3 separate regions of the Homo sapiens genome follow, and regions 1 and 3 are each reported to be linked to region 2. The links are microRNA targets in miRTarBase. Many come from high-throughput screens and were not tested one by one. Region 2 holds a microRNA gene; each other region holds the end of a gene's coding sequence.
Evidence for each region. Region 2 holds the annotated microRNA hsa-miR-4513 (AGACUGACGGCUGGAGGCCCAU, at 3,244-3,265, shown strand). A microRNA usually pairs through its seed, bases 2 to 8, with sites in the 3' UTR of a target mRNA and lowers its output. Matches are read on the target gene's strand: a 7mer-m8 pairs with bases 2 to 8, a 7mer-A1 pairs with bases 2 to 7 and ends in A, and an 8mer does both.

Region 1: miRTarBase lists FBXL4 as a target of hsa-miR-4513. Seed matches in the 3' UTR shown: 7mer-A1 at 4,038-4,044.
Region 3: miRTarBase lists KCTD15 as a target of hsa-miR-4513. Seed matches in the 3' UTR shown: 7mer-A1 at 7,272-7,278.

Annotation. Positions count from the first base shown.
Region 1 is chr6:98,867,393-98,875,463 of GRCh38, reverse strand. FBXL4 (F-box and leucine rich repeat protein 4) reads left to right here. Exons shown (of 10, transcript NM_001278716.2): 9 at 1-49; 10 at 1,023-6,929. The coding sequence ends at 1,186. Among named protein-coding and RNA genes, the nearest start is that of POU3F2, 37 kb to the right of the region's middle.
Region 2 is chr15:74,785,506-74,791,987 of GRCh38, reverse strand. It overlaps MIR4513 (microRNA 4513), which reads left to right and starts at 3,231; the gene lies at 3,231-3,316. All of the region lies in intron 1 of CSK (C-terminal Src kinase), which reads right to left. RefSeq lists enhancers at 1,611-1,710, 1,881-1,950, 1,971-2,020, 2,531-2,610, 2,641-2,950 and 5 more and a silencer at 4,011-4,188.
Region 3 is chr19:33,810,155-33,820,724 of GRCh38, reverse strand. KCTD15 (potassium channel tetramerization domain containing 15) reads right to left here. Exons shown (of 7, transcript NM_001129994.2): 6 at 9,173-9,478; 7 at 4,964-7,935. The coding sequence ends at 7,777. Among named protein-coding and RNA genes, the nearest start is that of KCTD15, 19 kb to the right of the region's middle. RefSeq lists enhancers at 1-391, 270-469.

The sequences.
Region 1 (8,071 bases), not on the chromosome of region 2:
GATGAATTGGCATGTAATTGTACCAGGTTACAGCAGCTGGACATATTAGGTAAGGTTACAATATATAAATTTGTTTTAAATGTCTGTTTCCTTGACAGAAAAGCCAATCTCAGACTTTTTGTTAGGAAAAAGAAAATTTTTGGATACAATAAAAATTTTATCCTGATAAGATGGCTTGGTTTGATAGGAAATGCAAGATAGATCAGTTAATATAGGGAATAATTATATATGTACTTTAATAAAATAGTGAGGACAATAACAATTTTATAGTTGAAACTGTAAAAAACTATAACCATTAATTCTTGGTCTACTTGTAAGAGTGAGAATTTACATGAGCTGCGCTCTCTATTTTTATTAAGGAGAGAAGAAATTAATTCATTTGTATAATGAATTCAAGCTAGTTTTTTTTAAGTTTCTTAATTAAAATTCTTGATTAAGGAATATCGTGAAATCTTTATCCCTGATAATTCTAGCGTTTAGGAATAGTTCTACCCCAGGCAGATCTATTGAAAATCTTTTCCAGCTCTGGGATTTCTTGAATCCTTGCTGCATTCATCAGAAAGGAACCCTGTGTAATTTTGTTGCTTCTTACTTTTAGCCAGGGGTGCTAGCAGTGTCACAGTAGTTATCATTGTCCACACAATTGATACTTTGTGAAGTCATATCGCACTTGCACATTTTACATCAAATGCATGGTGAAAACCATTTTGAACTGGGGTGACAGAAATAGGAAAGTCTGGAGGAGCTGATTTGAAGGGGTAGGAGGTAGGAATGAAGATAGTGGGTAGGATATTGGCAAGATTCAGGTCCTAGATGCTAAATTGGCTGGAAAATTCAACTTTTACTTTTTTAACAGAACCATTTCAATATGAAGTCATGTTTGAAAAAATGATTTTAATTTGTAAAGGGTTATTTTAAGTTCATTACAAACAATAAATCATGGATGGATTCATTGTTAGCACATTATATAAATGTTATACTTAAGGTGTTTTGTTTTGTTTTGTTTTGTTTCCCTTAAATAGGAACAAGAATGGTAAGTCCGGCATCCTTAAGAAAACTCCTGGAATCTTGTAAAGATCTTTCTTTACTTGATGTGTCCTTCTGTTCGCAGATTGATAACAGAGCTGTGCTAGAACTGAATGCAAGCTTTCCAAAAGTGTTCATAAAAAAGAGCTTTACTCAGTGACTTAATATATGTTCTGTATTAAAATTAATGTGCTTTGTTGGGGTTTAATTTTGGGATTGGTTTTGGGTTTTGTTTTTAGTTGTTTTAATGGTAAGAATTAAGACATTTGTAGATTTTAAAGAAAAATATGAAATTGTCCATTAAATCAAGTAAAAATGTGCACAAATGTTTTCATAAAATACTGCAAGCACTTCTCTTCAAGAATATGAGTGGATATTATTTTTACCTTATGTTAATCAGTGATATGCTTTAGTCAATAATATGATTGATAAAAGAATAACATGGAATCATGCTAACTTATTTTCAAAGGAACACTGAGCAATAAAGTATCGTGGCATTTATGCAAAAAAAAAAGTTAATTTTTTACACCTTCATGTAAGGATGTCTTATTAAGCCTGTGACCTGGCAAGTGTTTTGTTTGGTATGTACAAAATGGTCAGAGCTAGTTGGAGAATGAGACATGCTTTTCCAGCTGTTTGGTTATTTCTCTGGATTAACTGTTCAACTGGAAAATTTTTAGTTTTTCTAGCCAGGTGTGGTGGCACACACTTGTAGTCCTAGCGACACAGGAGGTGGAGGCAGGAGGATTACTTGAGATGGGATTTTGAGACTCTAGTGTACTTATGATTGCACCTGTGAGCAGCCACTGCACTCCAACCTGGGCAATATAGCAAGTCCCTTTCTCTTAAAAAAAATTGTAGTGTTTCCACTTTTCTTCTGATATTTTTGTCTATTTCACTACTGGATAATGCCAATATAAAAATTTGGGTATAATCAAGAATAAGAGGTAAACTACTAAATAAAAAAAGCTTTCCAACTGTTAGAAGCAGATGCCTTAACATTTTGTGAAAGGTAAAGTTTTGAGGTTTCTGAATTATATAAAAAAACATAAATGTGGAGATATATATTATATATACACATTATATATACATATTATAGATAATATATATCCACATTTATGATTTTTAATATATACATGTATATATTATATATTATATAATTATATATTACATTTATATTATATGTAATGTACATGTATATATTATATACATATATATAATTATATATATTATATAGAGAGAGATATATATCTTGCTAGGGTGTGTGGATGCTGGAATATAACGATTTTGCACTTAACAGGACAATGAATTTTGTTATACTACAGTTAATATTAGTTTTGTGTTCAAAACAGCTGTGCCTTTTCATGCCACAAAATATTTTCTGTCTACTTTCTGAGTAGCAGAATTAATTCATTTTTTTAACAAAACGATGTATGTCAAGTGTTCAGTAGTCACATGAGGAGAATGCTTCCTTTGTGCCTGGCACTGTTTCTTGTGCTTTGCATTGACTAATTCAATTCTCACAACAACCCTGTAAGATAAATGCCATTACTTACCCCCATTTACAGATGAGGAAACTGAGGCAAAGAAAGATTGAAGAATTTATTTATGATCATACAGCTGCTAGTGGCAGAGCCAACATATAAACCCAGGCCATCTGGCTTCTGAAGCATTGCATTAAACCTGTGCTTTTAGGTGTTCAGGGTAGCTTCTGGCTCTAGGGCAGAGGTCAGGAAACTTTTTCTATAAAGGGCCAGATAGTAAATATTTTAGGCTTTGTGGGCTAAGAGGTAAAACTGAGATTGTTATGTAGATACTTAAATAACTAGAGAGAAATAAAATTTGCACGAAAATTTTATTGACAAAATTCAAAACAATAATTTAGAACAATTTTTTTTGTAATACGGGTTTACTAATGAAAAGAATTAAATATTTACAGGGAGGATCAAAGTTAATGTTTCGTGTCATTAAAGTTGATTGTAAGTACTCATTTGTTAATGCTGATCTGTAATAAGATTTTATGTATTTTACTTCTGAAAATTCCTTGCAGATAGGTATTGTCAAATACTTACATTAATCCATGAGAATATGATTTTTGTTGAGCATATTCATCACTTGAAAGGTTACTTCTTCTCTGGATATTTTCCTTTTAGCATGTTATTACATTGCAGCTTAATCACTTCCAATTGAAGACTAGGCAGAAGCTCCTCAATTGCACTGTTAAATTGATTTTGAAAAATGGAAATTTCCTTTACATTTGCAAACTCCAAAAAATACTGCAGGCACTATGGTGTGAGCTACAAATTTGTGTGAGAGTGGAGATCTCGCTTCTTTGTCTTACCTTTTGATAGCACAGGAAATGTGTAAAGCAGCTTGTTGTTACTTGTAATTCAAACAATGTTGTCATCAAAATGACTTATGTTTTGCTTGTAAACACGTTTTGCCTTGTAATTTTGGCTTGAATTCATTTCAAAATTTTATTAAGTCTTGAGCAAAAGCTAAATTCCAAAGCCATTCAGTGTTCCATAATAGTGATTGAGGACATGTCTTCTTTTTCAGAAAAATGTCAATATCAGCCCTGAACGCAAAAGCTCACAATAGAACTAACACTATTATGCCAATGTGGTTGGGCAAATCAGCATATTCATCTTCTGTATCTGACAAAAGATAACTGAACCATTGATGTTTAATCTATCAGAAACTATGAGAGCAAATGAAGTTCACCATTGCTACCAGTAGTTCAGTAATACAAAATTGAATCAAATATATCCCACAAAGTACCTGCTGATGAATAATACAGTAAATAACCATAGATTTTAAATACCTTCTTACCTTTTCACAGGCTTTATAAATTTGACAAACGTAATCATTTTGCTTCACACATTTTTAACACCACCAGTTGTAACACATCTTAGCAGATTCTACTTCAGGTTGCATGAAATTTGTGTTTTCTTCTTATAAAATATTCATGCTTGTAATTGTGCCACACAGATAATTCATAGAGACTAATTTCAGTCACTTCAACGTTGGCATTGACTTATCAAATAAGCAATAACTAGGCAGTGTCAGTAACATCTGTTGACTCATCAAGAGCCAAGGAAAACCACTCAGGGTCATTTGCCTTGTTTTTTATTGACTGTTGATGTTGTTCCCAGTGTTCTCAATTCTTTAAGCAACCATTCTTGCCAAAAGGCTAATTTAATAGTCTTAAGTTTACTTTGGACACAGTCCTTCAGCCGATAGAATCAAACACAATTTAGTTATCGTTAGTAAAATGTTTTCCTTGCTTGGTTAACATCTGAGTCACTTTGGCTGCAACTTTATTTTCATTTTTGAGTTTGTTTTTTTTTTTTTTTGAGACTGAGTCTCATTCTTTTGCCCAGGCTGGAGTGCAGTGGCACAATCTCAGTTCACTGCAACCTCCACCCTGCAGGTTCAAGCGAGTCTCCTGCCTCAGCCTCCCAAGTAGCTGAGATTACAGGCACATGCCACCACACCTAACTAATTTTTATGTTTTTAGTAGAAATGGGGTTTTACCATGTTGTCCAGGCTGGTCTTGAACTCCTGACCTCAAGTGATCCACCCACTTCAGCCTCCCAAAATGCTTGGATTACAGGCATGAACCACTGCATCTGACCTCCCTATAGTATTCTTTAAGAACAGCTATAATGACATTGCATATTAAACATCATACTCTGACATCTAATCTGATTTTTAAAAATTCATATACTAATGTGCCTTAAAAATGTCACTTCAAGTCTACTTTTCTTTTTTTCTCTTGTTTTGATGTTATGGGTAAGCACTAGTAATAAAAAATTTAAAAATATTGTGGTATGACAACATATGTGGCACTCAAAATGCTGGTAACTGCATTACTGCAGTTTTTAGTGTGCCAAGTAGCAGTGCAAAATGATGACAGCACCACATAAGTCTCCTTTGCATTTGTTCAACTCTGCCATTCTAATGTGAAAGCAATCATAGACAGTACCTAAACGAATGAGTGTGGCCATGTTCCAATAAAATTTCATGAGCACTGAAAGTTGAATTTTACATAATTTTGATGTGTTACAAAATACTACTGTGTTAGCCATTAGATTTTTTCAGCCATTAGAAAATGTGAAACTGTTCTTATGAGCTGGCTGGATTTGGCTTGTGGACCAAATTTGTGACCCCTATTCCAGAGTATTTTCGAGTCAGTTAATCCATGTTTGCCCATTCCTAATTTTATAAACCACATTCAAACCTGTTAATTCGCTGTTATCATTCTCATTTTGCCATTTAGATTTTAAAATGAAGAGCAGTGTTTTGTTAGAAAAAACAAAATGTTTACCATAACAAGAAAGATGTGTAGACAAGAAAGATATTTATGTAGACTCTTTGTTTGTTAAATTTTGAAGCCAGGTGATGCATTGTTAGCTTTGACAACTGACTTAAATTTTTGTATAATTATTTATCTTTGCATTTTGCTCAGGTAAATTATCTTCCCAGAGTCTAGAAATAAAGATATCCCTGATCCTGTTTAAGAGCATAAATAATACTCTCAATGTAAATTGTTTTGAAATAAGATCTTAAAAATACAAAATGTAGACAATTAATATTCAGGTGCTTACTTTTGAGCCAATATGTAGCAGAGAAAAACTAATTTCTCTGTGGCAGTATTTTTATTTTTGGCATTTCCCAGGAATTAACTGAAGACTAAAACTCATATGTGAAGTGTAATGATACTAATCAAAGAGTCAGTAAAATTTCCATTTGGCTACCATGTATGTGTGTATATATTTATGTATGTATGTGTGTGTTACATATTTGAGACAGGGTCTCACTCTATTGCCCCAGGCTGGAGTGCAGTGGCATGATCTCAGCTTACTGCAGCCTCAGTCTCCCAGGCTCAAGCGATCCTCCCACCTCGGCCTCCCGAGTACCTGGGACTACAGACACCACCACACCTGGCTAATTTTTTTATTTTTTATAGAGACACAGTCTTTCCATGTTGCCTATGTTGGTCTTGAACTCCTGGGCTCAAATAATTTTCCCACCTTGGCCTCCTGTAGTGCTGGGATTACGGGCATAAGCCACTGTGTCAGGCCCCATGTATGTTAATAGTGAATGTTTGGCTTTTCATTTGTTACTTTCAGCTATTAAAGGATACCTATTACAGACACAGGAATTTACATTTTCAAAGTCATTTTTGACACATCAGTGCTGCATCTACTTTTCTCCTTTTAGCACATTTGATATTGATACTTCAGAGAAACTTTTTTAACTACCCTTAAAATCTTGTCAATGACCATTAACTGCCAATCATCACCTCATTTGCTTTTTTTGACAACATACTACTAGAAACCTAGGCTGTGAGTGTAAAACCATAACTGTTAGAATCATTTTTTTGGCAATAGCTCACATTCTGTTAAGAGTCATTTGCTTTAATCAAAGATCATGATTTATTATATATTTTTTATAAGTAGGGATGGGGCCAAGATTATTCCTTTGGCACAGCAGTAAGTGTGCTCAAGATCTTTGCCTGTAAGCTTGAATATTTGGCTTAAATTTTGTGCATATGAATACTGTTAAAGGTATATTTGACTACATTTTGAAAGGAAAAAGGTAGTCCTGCTAAAATTGACATTTAGGGATATTTTAATCTATGTATTTGGTAAAGTAATTAGTGAAGTATTAGTTATAAAAATTTTAAGGAAAACATTTAAAAGCAAAATAGTCGTATCAGATAAATAGAGTAGAATACACTAAAGATAAAACAAGTCTCTGTTACAAATGAAGTTGTCTGTACAGACGACTGAGATATTTTAATTTTATTTACATAAAAATGCTGTTCAATATCTAATGATTTCTGTTGTTTGTATTCTGTACTTTAGAGTAATAAAATAAGTTTGAGTATCTCATTAGTTCACTTTCAAAATTGATCATTTCAGGGCACTGCTGAATATAATGGAAGGTTTGGGTAAATAGGTTTGCGTCACAGCCCCTGTGAAATTACCAGCCTAGATGAGGAGCCATCCGCCTGTGTACAGAACTCTTTTTTTTTTTTTTTTCATTTCTCTCTCTATATATTTTTTATTATTATTATACTTTTAAGTTTTAGGGTACATGTGCACAATGTGCAGGTTAGTTACATATGTATACATGTGCCATGCTGGTGCGCTGCACCCGCTAACTCGTCATCTAGCATTAGGTATATCTCCTAATGCTATCCCTCCCCCCTCCCCCCACCCCACAACAGTCCCCAGAGTGTGATGTTCCCCTTCCTGTGTCCATGTGTTCTCATTGTTCAATTCCCACCTATAAGTGAGAATATGCGGTGTTTGGTTTTTTGTCCTTGCGATAGTTTACTGAGAATGATGATTTCCAATTTCATCCATGTCCCTACAAAGGACATGAACTCATCATTTTTTATGGCTGCATAGTATTCCATGGTGTATATGTGCCACATTTTCTTAATCCAGTCTATCATTGTTGGACATTTGGGTTGGTTCCAAGTCTTTGCTATTGTGAATAGTGCCGCAATAAACATACGTGTGCATGTGTCTTTATAGCAGCATGATTTATAGTCCTTTGGGTATATACCCAGTAATGGGATGGCTGGGTCAAATGGTATTTCTAGTTCTAGATCCCTGAGGAATCGCCACACTGACTTCCACAATGGTTGAACTAGTTTACAGTCCCCCCAACAGTGTAAAAGTGTTCCTATTTCTCCACATCCTCTCCAGCACCTGTTGTTTCCTGACTTTTTAATGATTGCCATTCTAACTGGTATGAGATGGTATCTCATTGTGGTTTTGATTTGCATTTCTCTGATGGCCAGTGATGGTGAGCATTTTTTCATGTGTCTTTTGGCTGCATAAATGTCTTCTTTGAGAAGTGTCTGTTCATGTCCTTCGCCCACTTTTTGATGGGGTTGTTTGTTTTTTTCTTGTAAATTTGTTTGAGTTCATTGTAGATTCTGGATATTAGCCCTTTGTCAGATGGGTAGGTTGTGAAAATTTTCTCCCATTTTGTAGGTTGCCTGTTCACTCTGATGGTAGTTTCT
Region 2 (6,482 bases):
CAGAACAGACACAGCTTCCAAGTCCCATCCCACAGGCTAATTGGAAACAGGAAGGAGCACCTGCACTACAGGGAGACGTGCGGACAACCCCGGAACCAAGTGATCCAGTGAAGCATCACCAGCAAGGTGACGCATGGACACTAAGTGCCTCCTGGAGGAGGACTCTGCATTGCCCGGGGGGGCGTTCCTGCCAGAGCTGTTCCACCTGACTCCAACCAGGGAGAAGCAATCAGACAAATCCAGAACAACTGGCCCGGACTCTTCATGTCAATGTCATAAAAGAGCAAAACAAAAAAAGGGCTGGAGAATGTTCTAGATTGAACAGGACACTAGAGAAACATGACAAGATTCAATAAATGATCTTGAATTGAATTCTATATCAAGGGGTGGTCGGGGGGACAGCTATAAAAATCACTTGGGGAGAGGGGAAATGGACATAGTAGATAATATGGAATTAATGTCAATTTTCTTAAGTGTGATCATGACATTGTGATTATATAAGAGATACACGCTAAAGTTCTTAGGGTGAAAGATGCAATGCCTACAACTAACACTCAAATCAGCAAAAAATACATACACACATATGTCTATGTAGATAAAAGAAGAGATAGAGTAAATGTGGCAAAATGTTAAGAACTGGCAAATCTGCATGAAGGATATATGAATATTCATTATACTATTACTTCAACTTTTTGGTAGGTTTCAAATACTCAAAATAAAAGGCTGTGAAAAAAAAAGCCAGGTGCAGGTTCTCTATGGAATACTACAAGTTGTGTTTTTAAAGAGGTATTAATGCAACACCTCCCTAAACTCAAATATGCCTCGATTATCTTTGGAAAGACAGAGGAAACTGGTAACAGAGGTTGCCTCTAGGATGAGAAGGGAAAGTGAGATCAAGTTCAAGAGAAACTTACTTTTTACTGTTCATTTGCTATTTTGTCCTTTTGGGCTTTTAAAAAAATTATTATTATTTTTTTAAAGCCACATGCATCTATTACCTTCCCCCTTAAAACTGGAAATAAGAAACTTTTTGTAAATCACCTCTCTCTGGAGAATTCCTTGGGTCCCCAGCTGTGTTGGCTGCCGAGGCCTCCAAGGCCTCTCACACATCCCCGTGCTCCAGTGAGAACCTCACTGGTTGTGGCCTGTGGTTTAGGGTGGACTGGGAGCTCTGCAGGGGGAAAGTGAGGGTCTGACTCACGTCTGCATGGGCTGGGCCCAAAGCGGCTGCTCAGTAAATGAGTGCTGAATGAATGAATGAATGAACGAATGAAAAAAAGGGGACGCCAGGCTGGCTGTACCACACCGAGGTCTCATAACCAATAGGACTATAGTTAACCCCAAAGGGACAGCAGCTGTCACCCCATTCCCGCAGGGCTAGGGGACAAGGGGCTTGGGATGTGGCAGGACCAGTGCTTCACTCTGACTTCCTGCCCTAAACCCGGCTCCCAGCAGCCCTTGTGCTGGGGTCCCGGGAACAGGCTGGCATTGTGCCCAAGCGCTGAGGTCAGTGGCTGCAGCCTCAGGCAGCCTTTCTTGTGAGCCCAGGCTGACAAGGAGTGGGGAGAAAGAACTGGGAGCCCAGAAACTCCCAGGCTGCCCTTTTCCTACCCTGGAAGCAGCTGTAGACCCCCAAGGCCAGGCACGTGCTGAGGGCCAGGGGAGGTCAAGGGGCTCCCTTGCCCTTCCCCCTTGCCAAAACTCTGCTGCCTAATGGGGCGTGGGAGCCTTCAGTAACTGTTTACGCCCAGCTAAAAATACCCACTGAAAAGGGAAGTGCACAAAAGACCTGGGGGAACTCAGGGCCCTGGCCCCCGGAGATTCTGGTGCTGCCACAGGACCTAGCTGGATGCTCTGGGGGATGGGGACAGCCACTGGAGGCAAAACAGGCAACAGCAAGGTCCACCTTGCCTTCTCATTCTTTGAGCCAGTGTTTTAGAAGCCTTCCTGTGTGCCCAGAGCCATGCTTGGTAGGCCAGGATATCCGGGTGGAGAAGGAAAGGACTCAAGAGGTCCTGCCTTTGGGGACCCAAGGTCACCACTCACACACCTCTCCTCTGTGCACAAGCCAGGGCTGGATGCTGGGAACCACCACAAAATGCAGACCCGGCTCCTGTCCTCCTGGTTACTGGATGGTCAGCCATGGCCTGGTATGTTCAGTGCCTCAATAGATTGTGAGACAGGGGCCACCCGGGAAGGCTTCCAGGAAGATGGGTGAGGGGAGCAGGAGCTAGAAGGATTTTAGGGGAAAGTGACTGAGAGAGGGGCGCCTTGAAGTAAACCAGGATTAAGACTGCAAACTGTGGTACAGAGCGAGTTAATGAAGACTGAAGAAGGTTCAGGATGGGGGCCCAGGGAACCTCCGAGCAGGGCCTACAGGTCATAGTACAGATACAGGCAGAATTAAGTTTCAGATTTGGGCCCGCCCCTCCAAAGGGCAGTGCACCTGAGGAGGGCGGGGCACCCACCAGCAGTTGGGCAAGTTTGGCAGCAATAAAATCAGCTCCACCTCTGGTTCTGCAGAGGACACCAGGCTGAGGCACTGTGACATTCCCCACCACACATCAGGCAAGGAAGGGTGCCCGAGGGCTTCCACTGACCCCCGCAGCCTGCGCTGGTGGTCCCTCAGCACCCCCACTGCACAGGTGTCTCAGGGTGAGCAGCAGCAGAATTGGGCGCCAGGGTCTTGGAGATGCCTACACCTCCCGGGGCGGTTACGAAGGAACAGAAGAATGCCTGCTCTGGCTCCAGGGCACGCTGCCCTACCCCCATCCCGGGGCTCCCGTCAGCACCCTGACCTAAGGAGAAGGGCGGATTTAATGGATAAATACCAAATTATAGCAACACACTGGCTTTTTTTCCCCTGCCCCCAATGGTTCAGTGGGACCGGAAATCCCGTCTAGTGGTTTGGGAGAGGTGGGGGCTGGGGTTAGAGCAGGCTAATGGGGAGCCTACTCCCCAGGCACCGCTGCGGCTTGAGGCTGCCATTCCTGGCCCAGAAAGGTTTCTAATTACCGCTCAGGAGCCTAATTACCTATGTGCGCTGGGCAATGGGGACTCTGGGCCTCCCCAGGGCCCTAACCCAGGCCTCTGCTCCCCCACCCCCTTAGCACAGGATGTGGTCTTTGCATCTTCATTTGCCTGCATTTGCATATAGCCTCTCAGCACTAGCCTTCAATGGACCCTTCAAAGTCATGTTCTTGTCCCTCACCCGGAAGTCTCCTGGCCACATTCTAGGTGGGGAGACTGACGGCTGGAGGCCCATAAGCTGTCTAAAACTTCGGCCCCCAGATTTCTGGTCTCCCCACTTCAGAACCAGGATCTGCAGAACACACAGCTCAGAAGGTAAAGCTGTGGGGATCAACACAAAGGACAGACTTGCTACTACTTAAGGGAGATGGGGGTGTTACCAGTACACTCCTCCAGCAGGATGGGCTGCAGAATGAGAACACGGGAATTACAGCTGACTGACCCAACCGGGTTTGGGGCACTGCATTAGTTACTTAATCCTTCAAACACCCCATAGGGCAAGGACTGGTGATCTCTGACAGAGGAGGAACTAGCTGTGTGGGTACTTGAGCTCAGAGTTGTCTGAACCTTGGTTAGGGGACCTTTCTTCCCACCTTTCCTTGTGCAGGACAGACGACACCCTGAAAATGGACAGGTGGGGGGCACCGAGGGGAGGTCTGCCCAGAGCTTGGCTGTTCTGCTCTGGGAAGCAGAGGTACTTCTGTGCCCACTTCTTGCTTGTCTGCATACCCCAGCCTCTCAGAGAGGCCAAGAGCCTGTCGAGGGACACACAGAAAAGAGCCAGCAGCCCTAGAGAGGGCAGAAGCTTCAAACAAGGACCTCTCCTCCTACCACGCTTCTTCTTCAAACACTTCTCAACTTTCACAGGACCTTCCCCTCCAGGAGGCCCTCCAGGCTGCCCCAGCCCACGCAGAGCCCCAGCTTCAGAGCTCCTACCAGCTCTGCCAGGAAGTGAGAACCACAGGCCTCCCCTCACTGACTCCTCGTCTCCTCTACCCGCCAGCAGAGGCGCTCTCAGGGTTTGCTCTTCATCCTTCCCTCCTGTCTCCCTGCAGCACGGACAGCACAAGCTGCAGATAGATAGATGCGCGAGTCTGCATGAGGACCAGGTGTCAGGCTGGGCTGAGAAGCAGCAGCCAGGGTCCAAGGGGGGCAGATGATGCCCAGGTTTTCGCCTGCCCACGAGGCTTACAACCATGCCATGATCAGGACAGCCAGGGGGGCACCAAGCAGCCTCTCTTCTACTTGTTCCTTCGACTCTGGGCCCAGACCACAGAAGGAGGGGTGGAGGGAAGCTGCGGTTGGAGGGTGTGTGCACAGCTAGTGTGTGATGAGAAGCTGACTTCATCTTAGCACCTCAAAACCAGGAAGAGAAACTGAGCAGGCAGAAAGGGCAGGCTGGGCTGCACAGGGCCCTCCAGTCCCTGGGGGCCTGCTGAGGGGAGCTCTCAAATAGTCGCTTGACAAACCACTTCTCCTTTCTGGGCCTCAGTTTCCCCATGGGAAAAATGGGATTTTTTTTCTAATGGGTCCTGCCAGTCTGCCCTGAGTGGTGCCGTCTACACTTAATGGGCCACATCATGGCAGATAAAAGAGCACCCCCCCAACTGGTGGAGTACTTCTGATCCCGAGGAGCAGGGGCTCAGCCACCCAAAGCCAGCCTCTCCCTGCTCACTTCTCCCCTCAGCCATGCAGGGAGCACCAGCTCTTCCTTCACCAGCTCTTTATTTTTAGGTCTGAATTTGACTTTAATCATTACTTAGCGGATTCTATTTCCAGCCCTTGGATGAAGGGACCCAGAGGAGAGGGGGAAGGGAGGCAGTGCTCCCTGCCGGGCGTTGGGGGTGGCCTGCTCCTCCACCCATCCTGTCCCCAACCAAGGGCGGGGGAAACTGAGAAACACCCAAAGGGCTCTCATCTGAGCCAGGCCAGGCCAGCATCTTGGGGCGGACCCCACCCTGTGACCTCATCCCATCCCAAGCTGTGGGACAGGAGGGCAGTTGTCATGCCCACTTCCCTTACACTAAGACCAGGGAGGAGGAGATACTCCACAGGCCAAAGTTTGGCAGCTGGAGTCTGAAGTCGTGTGCCCAAGGGACCTCTGCACTGAATGGGCCACCTGGGGGAGGACCCCTTCCTTAGGTTAGTCCTGGGCCACCCTAGGGTCATCTGGGGCTACAGTCTCTTAGGCCCAGGGTTGCCAGGAGGAGACTGGTGTCCTGCTACTGCCCACGGGGTGGCTGTAGGAGGGCACTCCCAGTTACCCTGGTCTCCACAAAAGTAGAACAAGAGGAAGCAGGTGTGTCACAGTGATACACACTCAGGTTAGACCTGGGGAACACCTGCTGAGGAGGGGGAGGCTAACATGAGTTTCCCGATGTGTCCAACTCCCTCCTGGGAAGCTCTGGGAGGCTCCAGAATCCCCCTACCCTTAATCTCCCAGCTTCTTTCCCTTCCTTGGCTACTGGAACAGGGTGCGAAGATGAGGCTGGCATGGCTGTTCTTGGGCTGGGGCTCAGGATGCCTGGGTTCCTTGTCTAAGTCTCAGGCTAAGCAGGCCTCTATTTCCTCTGGGAAAATGCCAAGCTGGGCTGACCTAGCCAGAGCTGGGAGGCAGGAGGCAGCCAGGCTCTTACAGAAGAGGCGCAGTGGCTCACGCCTATAATCCCAGCACTTCAGGAGGCCGAGGTGGGTGGATCACCTGAGGTCAGGAGTTTGAGACCAGCCTGACCAACACGGAGAAACCCCATCGCTACTAAAAATACAAAATTAGCCAGGCGTGATGGCACATGCCTCTAATCCCAACTTGGAAGGCTGAGGCAGGAGAATCGCTTAAACCGGGAGCCGGAGGTTGTGGTGAGCCAAGATCGCGCCATTGCACTCCAGACTGGGCAACAAGAGCAAAACTCCATCTCACACACACACACACACACACACACACACAAAAAAAAAAAAGAGAGAGAGAGAGAGAGAAGAGGCCTTGTCTATTTAGCTCTGATGCTGGGAGACCGGAAGGGGAATGGGTGGAGTCAGGTCCCGGACCCTAACCAGCAGCCCATCTTCCCAGGGCCAGCCCCATGTCCTAGGCCAGCCAATCATATGGTAATGGGGAGAAGGGAAGGCAGGCAAGGGCACTGGCCATAGTATTCTAGAACCTCAGGGCCAGGGGGTTTCACAGGGGCTCCTCAGGCGGAGACCACCTCTTTGCCAGGTGAGTGGTCAGTCAACATTGGCCCGTGGCTCAGGCACCTTCCCCACAGGTTGAGGCAGCCAGCAGTGGGCACTCCTTCAACAATGCCAATCCTACTCACAGAGGGAGTGAAGAAAGGGCTGTGCCAGGCACTTTAGAGTCCCTTGGTTAGTTAGTTGACACTGTCCTTACACCTTCCTCTGAAGTAGGTGTTACCATCCTGTTATTTATATCAACGAGGCTCAGCAGGTCAGTGACCTGT
Region 3 (10,570 bases), not on the chromosome of region 2:
AAGGCCTCCGGGGCCTGGGGAAGTGACTCACTGGGCCCGGGGATGGACCCACCCATGGGGGCTCCGCGGGCCCACAATAGACCCATAGGATAGGAAAGGCACTGTCAGCCTCCGGCCTCTGGCGGGCGCCTCCCAGCCCACCCCCGCGAGATCTGGTCTGCGTCCAGCCCGGGGCCCCTGGGGATAGGCCCTGTTCTCGTTAGGCTCTGCCAGTCGGGACCGCCACCGCCGCTGCTGCCACCTGGGGCTGTGGGCGCGGCCCCTTCCGCCAGCCCTCCCTCCCCTTGGCCCTGCGGGGACCCGGGCTCCCCAGTTCTCGGCAGAGCCACACTACTCCTCTGCCAGAGCGAGGCCATCGATGTCACCCGAAGGTGGCGTCAGGCTCTGTCCCGAGGCTCCCCGGAGGCCTGTGATGGGGACTTGGAGAGAGCCCTCGTTGCGAGCCCCGGCTTCCCGGGCAGTTGCACAACCTCCCCCAATTATGCTCCGTGCAGTGTGTGGCAACCGGGCGAGAATTCCAGGGCCTTGTACCTACTCGTACCAATCTGCCTTCCCGCTGTTTGGCTGCAGGGCCAGGCGTGGCTCTGTGGGCCCGGGGAAATGGGGGTGTGTCCGCGTCCAGGAGGGCGTGGCCCGCGTCAGCCCCGGGAGCAGCAGCCCGGCCCTGCTGGTGCAATCGGCTCGCCCCAAACCGCAGCTTCCTCGGGGGCCCTGAACCGGGTCCAGGACACAGAAAAGGGAGCTCTGGTGACATCCTAGACACGGGCTTTGAGCAGCAGGCCTGGCCCAGCTACGGCTGGTGACGCCGTCCAGCCAGGGATGCGCGGCCTGGGTTCTCCCGCGGGCAGGACGGGAGGCCTCCCGGGCCCCAGCGTGGCTTGGGCGTCCCTGCCCCTCCCAGGCTCTGCTTTTTAAGACTTTGGCCTGGTTTGTGATTTCTGTGTTAAGAAGGATCCTAGGAGGAGGCCCTGAAGACCTAGCTCTTATTCCACGGCCATGGCTCCGGGTCCAGGAACAGCATTGTCCTGTGGGGCCTGGGCGCTGTCGGGACTGGCTGTTCTGTGTAATGGAAATAAAGACAAAACCCCAAATGCAGCTGACCCCTAACCCCTCTCCTTTGTGTGTCCCCGGGAGTGTGCCTGCCTCTTTCTCTGGGTCTCTCATTAGAATTTCACAGAAGCTTCCTTTGCTATGGAGACGCTAGTCTTGAGGCCTGAGAGGTGGTTCTCTCTACATGCAAATCAATGCATTTGGGGTAATCCATGTTCAGTGTCATGACGAAGTGGAAAACTGCAATGTGGTCTCTCTTCCTGTTAAATTTACAGAGCTTCAAGTACACAATTGAAAGTAAACAATTCCTGGCTGGGCGCAATGGCTCACACCTGTAATCCCAGCATTTTGGGAGGCCAAGGTGGGAGGATCACTTGAGGCCAGGAGTTCAAGACCAGCCTGGCCAACAAAGCAAAACCCCGCCTCTACTAAAAATACAGTAATTAGCTGGGCGTGGTGGTGCACACCTGTAATCCCAGCTACTCGGGAGACTGAGGCACAAGAATCGCTTGAACCCAGGAGGCAGAGGTTGCAGTAAGCCAAGACTGCACCACTGCACTCCAGCCTGGGCAACGGAGTGAGACCCTGTCTCACAAAAAAAAAAAAAAAGGAGAAGAAAAAAAGTGAACAATTCCTGTGCATAAACAAATGTCTGCTCCAAGCCTCATGAGCTATCTTGCCCTCCCAAGCACCTGCAGTGCTTGGCATATGCTGGCCACCAATAAGTGGTGCTCTTGGGTGGTTGTGAAGATAAGGATCTTTGCAGGGAAGCAGGGACCCTTTAAAAATCAACATCCAAAGCCTCAACAGATACATCAGCGCCCCTTTCCAAATCATGACTTTTCCTCAAAAAGCAAAAACTCTACTCAACATATCCTTCCACTGGGGGTGGAGATAAAAACACAGAAAGTTCTCTTTCCCTGAGGGTAAACAGCTACCAACAGTCAGTCATGCCTGGATGCACAACCTCAGGGGTGGGCCCCTCCTGGATGCACAACCTCAGGGGTGGGCCCCTCCCCAGGAACGAGCCCCCAACTCTGCCTGCAGTTCCTAGGTCTGCAGAGGTCACCATGGGCCTGGCAGGGCTCTGCTTGTCTAGCTTTGGGGCTTGCAGGAAGAGAGCTCCTGAACCAGATCCAGGGATTAGCCTGGGATGTGGCGGGGTAGGCTTCTCTGGGGCTGGGGTTTCCCTTCCAATGAAAGCTCACAGAGAAATGTCCCTGGGCTTACAGAGGCCATGGCTGCGAGAACTCGCTGGTTGTGAGATCCAGAAAGAGCAGAGACGCGCTCTTCTTTTCTGACTTTCAACCTTCCCTGGGGTTGTGTTCCATTTGGGTCACCTTAGAAAACTCTGGTGCTTCTAAGAGAACATCAGCGCTAGTCTTGGTGCTGGCAGGAAGCTGCCCTTAGCTGTCACCAACACTTTTTTCTTTCTGTTAGTCCACAAAGCATTACCTTACCTCACCGGTCCTCCAGAGAACATCGGGGCTGCCTAGAATGTGGTGACAGGAGTGAACTCTTAATGGAAAGGGGTTCTGGAGGGAATGTTTCTGTGCCTCTCTGCCCTAGTTGGTGAATTTAGCAGTTTAACCTAAATACAGTTGTTCCTGGATAGACCTTCCTCCAAGCAGGTGCTCTAGACCATCTTTTGTCTCGGGCTTTATGTTGGACGTTAGAGCTTTATCTTTGTGATGCCTTTGTAGGTTTCTCTGGATACTGACAAGAAACTTCATTTGATCTAATGAGAAACTTCTCACTAATAAAGGCAGGAGCTGCTTTTGACACATATGCATTAATATCATCTTTCTATTCTTACCATTTTTTTTTCCTGTTTTTGAGAAGGAGTCTCACTCTGTCACCCAGGCTGGAGTGCAGTGGTGAGACTTCGGCTCACTGCAACCTCTGCCTCCCAGGTTCAAGCGATTCTCCTGCCTCAGGCTCCCGAGTAGCTGGAACTACAGGCACGCACCGCCATGCCTGGCTAATTTTTGTATTTTTAGTAGAGACAGGGTTTCACCATGTTGGCCAGGCTGGTCTCGAACTCCTGACCTAAAATGATCCACCCACCTTGGCCTCCCAAAGTGCTGGGATTACAGGTGTGTGCCACTGCACCTGACCCTTTTCTTACCATTCATTCTAAGCAAATCCATTTGTAGAAAATTTTAAAATTTGTGGCAGTTAACGATGTGGGCTTTTACCCTATACAGTGACCCAGACTCTTCAGTGCAGGTAACTCCACATCAAATCTTCCATCAGAGATAAGACAGCTGCCAGCCCCTGATCTCCAGGTGAGGGCAAGCCCTCTCTCTACAAGGAAACTCCTCCTTTGGGCGGGGTTGGGGTGAGCAAAGAGAGCCACCCACATTCTCATCACACATGTGACAAGACCAATATTACTTGGCTGACTTGAGCCTTGTGGCTAAACACATTGCCTACCCCCCTTGAGATGGCCATCAACCTGTGACATCCTACTTCCTACAACAGCTACATCAGCCCAGATGTCAGACTCCATCCAGGCCAGCGGCTGCCTTCTCTGGCCATCAGTTGTCCCTCTAGCTCTGTCTAGACCTCCCTATTGTTTTGAACTGAGGCAGATTTCCTGCCTCCAACTGAATATCCCCTGGCAGTTTCCCATTTTTGTATTTTCCACCTTGTCATCTACTTAGGAGAAATTGAGTATCTTCCAGGGCCAATGCAGCCATTTTCCTGTCTCTGGAGAATCAGGAGGGAAGGCAGGGCTTGATGGGATGGGGCCATCTTGGCAGACAGCATTGCCTCGAGAACATGGGTTGGCCTCTAGGGAGGGGAAGTGGGCAGGCTCTGCTAGGCTTAGTCAAGTTAAATATTATCTTGGTCAGTGGCTCAATGGATATAGTTTCCCCATTTCTCACATCTGTGCTTCCCTTTTTTTTTAATTAATTATTTTTTTATTTTAAGATGGAGCCTCGCTCTGTCGCCAGGCTAGAGTGCAGTGGTGCGATCTCGGCTCACTGCGACTTCTGCCTCCCGGGTTCAAGCGATTCTCGTGCCCCAGCCTCCCGAGTAGCTGGGACTACAGGCACATGCCAGCACACCCAGCTAATCCTTTTTTTTTTGTATTTTTAGTAGAGACGGGGTTTTGCCATGTTGGCCAGGCTGGTCTTGAACTCATGACCTCAGGGGATCCACCCACCTTGGCCCCAAAGTGCTGGCATTACAGGTGTGAGCCACCACACCCAGCCATGCTTTCTCTTTTTAATTTTATTTATTTTGAGACGGGGCTTGCTCTGTTGTCTAGGCTGGAGTGCAGTGGTGTGAACATGGCTCACTGCAGCCTCAACCTCCTGAACTCAAGTGATCCTCCCACCTCAGCCTCCTGAGTAGCTGGGACTATAGGCACATGCCACCATGAGTGGCTTATTTTTAAATTCTTTTGTAGAGATGGGGTCTCACCAAATTGCCCAGGCTCGTTTTGAACTCCTGTGCTGGAGCAATCCACCCGCCTCAGCCTCCCAAAGTGTTGGGATTACAGGCATGAGTCACTGTGACCCGCCCACTTTCCTTCTTTTGAATGTTAGTGGTTTGGTCCACAGATATACATGTATGCAACACCAACGTAGTGCAACATGCTCATCACAGCCTGAACACTTGAGTCCAGGCTTGGGGGTCTGGAGAGGTAAAGGGAGGCCATGCCTGCACCATTTTCCCCGCCAGATCTGCCAACAGCATGTGCACTGAGCGCCTAGAGACAACGCTGCTGCTCTCTGGTCAGTCCTCAAATCAGGAAGCTTTGGGATTTGGGACTTGGGATGTTAAGGTCCTACTCAGTAGCCACACCAGGTCCCAAGTGTGGGGAGTGGTGGTTCCCGAGGACCAATGCTGGAGTACCTGATTGTGGCTGCTTCCGTGAATTACAAACCAAGGGCTAGAGCTGTAATTTATAAAATATCCTTTATTTATTCTAAGGAACAGTCAAGCAGTAGCTTTAAAAAAAAAAAAAAAAAAGACACATTTTTTGAAAGATATTCTTAGTGTTGTGACCTGGCATTGGGCCCCTGTGAGCGGGACGGTGGCTGAGACCGCCTGCTGTGGCTTTGCGAGTTCTCTGCACTCACTGGCAGGGGTTTGGTGGGAAACGGGGAAGCTTTGGCATGGTTCTGTCCAGTTGCTTATAATCAAGAATAATGAGTTTTGAGGTTTACAAAGAGCAGAAGTAACATTTATACGGCTGGCATTTGACAAAAGATTGCTGATAATATACTCATTCCAGGAAGTGTAAAAATGCTTTAAAGGAATGATAATTTGTACTTACTGTTTATGGGGACTAGATATATTAGAATTATAGCATCATTATGGGGACATAGTGTTTCCCTATAAATTCAGAAATTCTCTGGTTGATGTAAAATCATACTTCCTGGTTTTACTTAATTAGTAAAGAAATAAATAAATTAGAGTAACATTTAGTCAGGTAGAGTTACTCCTTTTTCCCCTTCTTTATTAATAAATTTTATTTTTAGCACAATCATTTACCCAAAAAGAGAGTTTGAGAATGTTCGAGAATCTCTACCACTCGGTAACCATGCTGGCTGTTATATCAGAAAAATCCATAAACATACACAGCAGCGAGCTGTTTTCACAAGACTTCCTGCTAATAAACACAACACTTTCTCCTCCACTCAGATGGGAGCCTCAGATGCCAAAACGCAGATGTGCCAACTAACTATAGGCTCGTTGCTAAGCAGAGAAACCTATCAAGTTTGTCCAGCAAATTCGATTGTACAGTGGGATGGCGTCTGCTCTGCGGCCTTGGACAGGGAGCCACTGGTCTGTGCTGCTGTCCCCTGAGGCAGGTCGAAGCTGGTGGCCCTTAGAGGGCAGGTAAAATGGTTCTCATGGGTTAGAACATAAGGGCTTTGAGAAAAAATGCAAAAGGTCTCATTGAAATTGGAGGCCTATGTGAATCTGTTTACATGGAGGCATACTGAGATCTCGTTCTGTGCTTAGGTGAACTGCAGGTCTCACGCTGGCTGCATGACTTGGTGCCCCCTGGCTGGCTGAGCCACTGCCTGCCACCTTCTCATACCATTACGTGGGGGTCTAAAGAGGACATCATCCCCAACCAAAGAATAGTGAGAGAGAAAATCCCAAACATTTGAGACAGGGTTCAAAAGCACCCAGACGCCTTCTGTCTCTTTCCCAGTTCCCATCTGGCTAGGGACTGTGAATCAGAATTCAGAATCTGTGCTGCCCTGAGGGGACAGGCACCCAAATGCAATAAATAACACCAAGCTCAGGACCCAGCCACTGACCTTCCTCCACCACTGCTGCGGGTTATTCCTCGATGGGAACTGAAGGATCCAAGGGAGGAATCCGTTCCGCCCCCAAACCTCCCTGCACAACATCGAATGCGGGAGTCTGGCTGCTGCTTCTGCACAGGACAGAGCCTCCAGTCTTTTGCTTGAGAGCATCATTTATGGCATGGACTGGGAACGCAATGTGTTCACACAAATGCACGACAATTGTACATCAGCATCTTTACAATATTAAAGGAGCCATATACAAGTCTACAGCCATTGTACACAGGATGGTGATGGCTGGGGAGCCCCGCCCACCAGTCCTCTGCAGTTTCTCCACCGGAGAACACTTGGGGAGCTGTCACAAGGCCAGGGGGGGTCCATCTTTGGGCCTGTCGTGGGGGAGGCAGCAGGTCTGCAAGGACTCCTCAGGGCCAGTCCTCACTGGAATCAGGGGTCAAGAGCGCCAGGTCTGCCTGTGTCTGGGTCTCATCGGCAGGCTAGTGTAACAACGTGAATTAAAACTGTGCATATTCGCATGAGAAAACTGGAGCTGGGGATGGCTCCCTGAGCTGGGGACCTAGAAGACGCTGCTGACAGATGGGCCCCTTCATGGTGGGGCCCATTCCTGAGGTAACGTGCAGCCCTGAGGCTGGTCCGAACGGGAGGAGACTTCTCCAGCAGCCCAGGTGCCAGTCCACACAGACAGGACTGGAAGCCCCTGGGCAGCAGGTCAGGTGACCCGGGGAGTGCAGCCTGAGCCCCCAACGGCAGCAAACGTGAAGGTCTCAGGTGGTTACAGAATCACTCAGCCCTCAGGCCCCCACCACTCTCCTCCCAGCAGCCCTGCAGCACACATCCCTGCATCTGTCCCGAGAGCCCCAGCCCTGCAGGCATCTGGGCCTGAATGCCAGGCAGCTGGTCCACCCTGCAGCCATGCTGCACGTCTGACTGAGAACTGAGCACCAGATAAAGAAGCATTGGTCCTTGTCAGCCTCTCTGACTTTTGCAGTTAGGGCTGCATCCATTTTAAATACTGTAGAAAATAAGCCATCTCTCGGACGCTAGGAGACCCGCCAGAGTCTGCCCCGCGTGGAGAGGGATAAACAGCTCCTCTGAAGTAGCTGCAGACGGCTCTTCCAACCCCGCCCCAACAGGCCCCGGGGCCTCAGAGGATGCTGCGCCAGGCTGCGAAGCTGAGGGGCTGGGAGAGCTGGCAGCAGAGATCCCACCGCTGTATCTTTGGGTCGCATCAACAGTCCTTCTGCAGGCATGCCTCCAGCATCCCACGTTCTGTTGCCATGACACCTGGGACCCTGGTGCTCGCTGGGCCAGCTTTGGACCCTCCAGCCTCACCCTCGGTCTCATGCCCACGGCCAAGTATACACAGGCAGAACTCCCCAGCACTGTTTCCAGGTCCCTGGGGGGGCCCAGGTGGGCACTGAAGCAGGGCCTAGTCCAGGGGTTCCTGCTTGATTCGAACAGCAGTGGGGGTGGGCTGCGGCCGCCGCTCCTCCCGGCAAAGCACATACTCGCTGAACTGGGAGGAGTCCACACCGCCCCCACAGGACGCAGCCACGCTGAAACCCCTCTGGAACAGCCGCTCCAGGACCTGCCCAGGAAGAAACAGAGGTCATCAAGGCCAAGCTGCAAGAGGACACCTGGCTTGGCCTGGCAGGGAGGTGGGTGCCTGCTGGGGCAGCCAGCAAGGGCACCTTCTCCTGTGACGATCTCAGTCTTGCTCACTGACAAAGGTCCCTACAGAACCACGTGCTGGGTTCCACCACCAGAGGGACAGAAGTGGCCAGGCCCAGTGACCCCTCAGGTTAGCAAACCTAGTTGGACGACCCCACCCAGGCCACCATCCTGCTGCCCTCAGGGCCTTGATTCCGGGAGGCAAAAAGAGGCTTTGGGTCCCTTCTTTATTCTGTAGGGTGTAACCTATGCCCTCTCTCCAGACACATGGCCCCAAGTGTCCTCCCTGAGTCCTGCCCCAATAATGGAGAGTTCCCTGTCCTTCAGCCTCTAGGCATCCACCAGCTTCCCTGAGCTGTGCATTCCAGGTGGTTTGAAGCCTGGGGGTGCATCAGCTCGTGGGAGCTCTGGAGGGAGAGAAAAAGGAGAAGTCCTCTCAATATTTGAGTCTCTGCAGGCGTCCACAACTATGTGGGTTTGTGCCTCTGTGAGGGTGAGGTCTGATGACTGCGTGTAACACCCGTCTCCTGCAACTAGCAAGTTCTGACCGACAGGCTGTGGAATGCGTGCACAGGGGGCCCTCTTCCCTGCAAAGCCCATTCCACCCTAACCCGGAAATGTGCCAAGCTCTTGGGTCTGCGAAGAGCTGTTGGAAAATAGGCCCTCACTCCATCTGAGCTGTCCAATTCTTGGACCCATCCAGGAAGAGCCGGTCCAGGGATTCTCTTGGCAGCTGGTGGGTGCCTGCGACTCCCAGGTCAGCAGGGAGAGGGAAGGGGCTCCAGACCACCTTTCCACTCAGCCTCTGTCCTGCCTCGCCTGTTGCCTGGGTTTAGTTCGAATCCAAAGTCAGACTCTGGGTGTCAAATGAAGCACGCTTTGTTGAAAATACTCTGGGCCATTTTTATAGAACATCCTTTTGGAAAAAAAAAAAAAAAGTACAGATCGATTTTTTTAAGTCCATCCCCCAGGCGCCATCATTTAATTATGAGAGGGACATAAATTATGCATCGACACATTGTTGCCTTTTTTGTAGGATGGCACGGGGGGCTTCACCGTTTCAGGGATCGCGCCTCCCTCCAGCTCACTCTGCCCCTGGAGGGCTCCGCGGACGCCGGGGGTGCGGCGGGGAGGGGGCAGCGTGCAGCCCTCACCTGTACCGAGTTGAGCCGGCAGTAGCCATTGAGCGGGAAGCGGATGACGTGCGTGGGGTCCTGGTTCCAGCCGGCGTTGACGGAGTTGCACATGACGTCTCCGGTCTCGGGGAAGACCTCCTCGATGAGGGCCTTCTCGCCGCTGAGTGCGATCCGCTCGCCCAAGTCGGGCGTGACGCGCACCACCAGGCAGTCACAGGCCCGGCTGCGGCGCCGCTGCTCCTGCTCCTGCTGCCAGCGCTCCAGCTCGCGCACCATGGGCTGGAGCTGATAGTAGCGCGCCTCCTCGTACAGCAGACTGAAGTCCTGGGGACAGGCGCACAGGGTGTTGATGTGGGTGTCGGAGTAGGGGTGGTGGGGGAAGGGGGAGAGGGGAGGCGGCCTGCCGGTTCCAACCAATTCTGCAGGAACTGCGACTCGCAGGGTATTGTGTGGACTGGGCCGGTTGCACCCATTGTACAGATGGGGCAACTGAGTGGTTTGCAAGTATAAAGAACCTAGCCTTGTCCCAAGGGCAGCCGCTGATGTGCACCTGTGCCAGCCCCCCTGAGCCCTTCCATCTGGCCCCAGGCACTGGGCAGTGAAGCCTCCCCATGGAAAGACCTGGAAGCTCCACTAAAGGACGAGGCTGTGCCTATGCCTGGGGACCTGCTGCTGCCTTAGAATCCCACCGAGAGAAGAGATCATGCTGGGCACAGGGCAGCCGGGCCTAGGAGCTCACAGCCTACCCGGAAGCAAAAAAAGTTCTTCTCCAGCCAAGCCTGCCTGGGTCAGATTTTCAGCTTCATCATCAACCTGCCCTGAGACCTCTAAACCTCTATACCTCACTAACTGAGCCTCTTGGTTTTTTTTTCGTTTTTTTTTGTTTTTTTTTTTTGTTTTTGTTTTTTGAGACAGACTCTCTCTGTCACCCAGGCTGGAGTGCAGTGGCTCGATTTTGGCTCACAGCAAACTCCACAATTCTCGTGCCTCAGCCTCCCGAGTAGCTGGGACTACAGGTGCCTGCCACCACACCCGGCTAACTTTTATGTTTTTAGTAGAGATGGGGTTTTCCCATGTTGGCCAGGCTGGTCTTGAACTCCTGCCCTCATGTGATCCACCTGCCTCGGCCTCCCAAGGCGTGAGCCACTGCGCCCGGCCTCAGTTCCCTTATGTATAAAATGGACATAAACAACCAGCTCAGAGAATGAAAGTGAGGATCAAAGGATGCAAGATGTGCCAAGTGCCTGGTCCAGCCCCTGCCCAAACAGGCAGAGTGTGATAAAGTGTCCAGGGAGGGGAAGCCCGCCCCCTGCCACGCAGCCCCCTTCTGGGCTAAGCAGCCTCGCACAGACTGTCCCTCAGGCGCTGATACTGGCCCCATGCCCTGGGCCACATATGCACACTATACACGCTCAC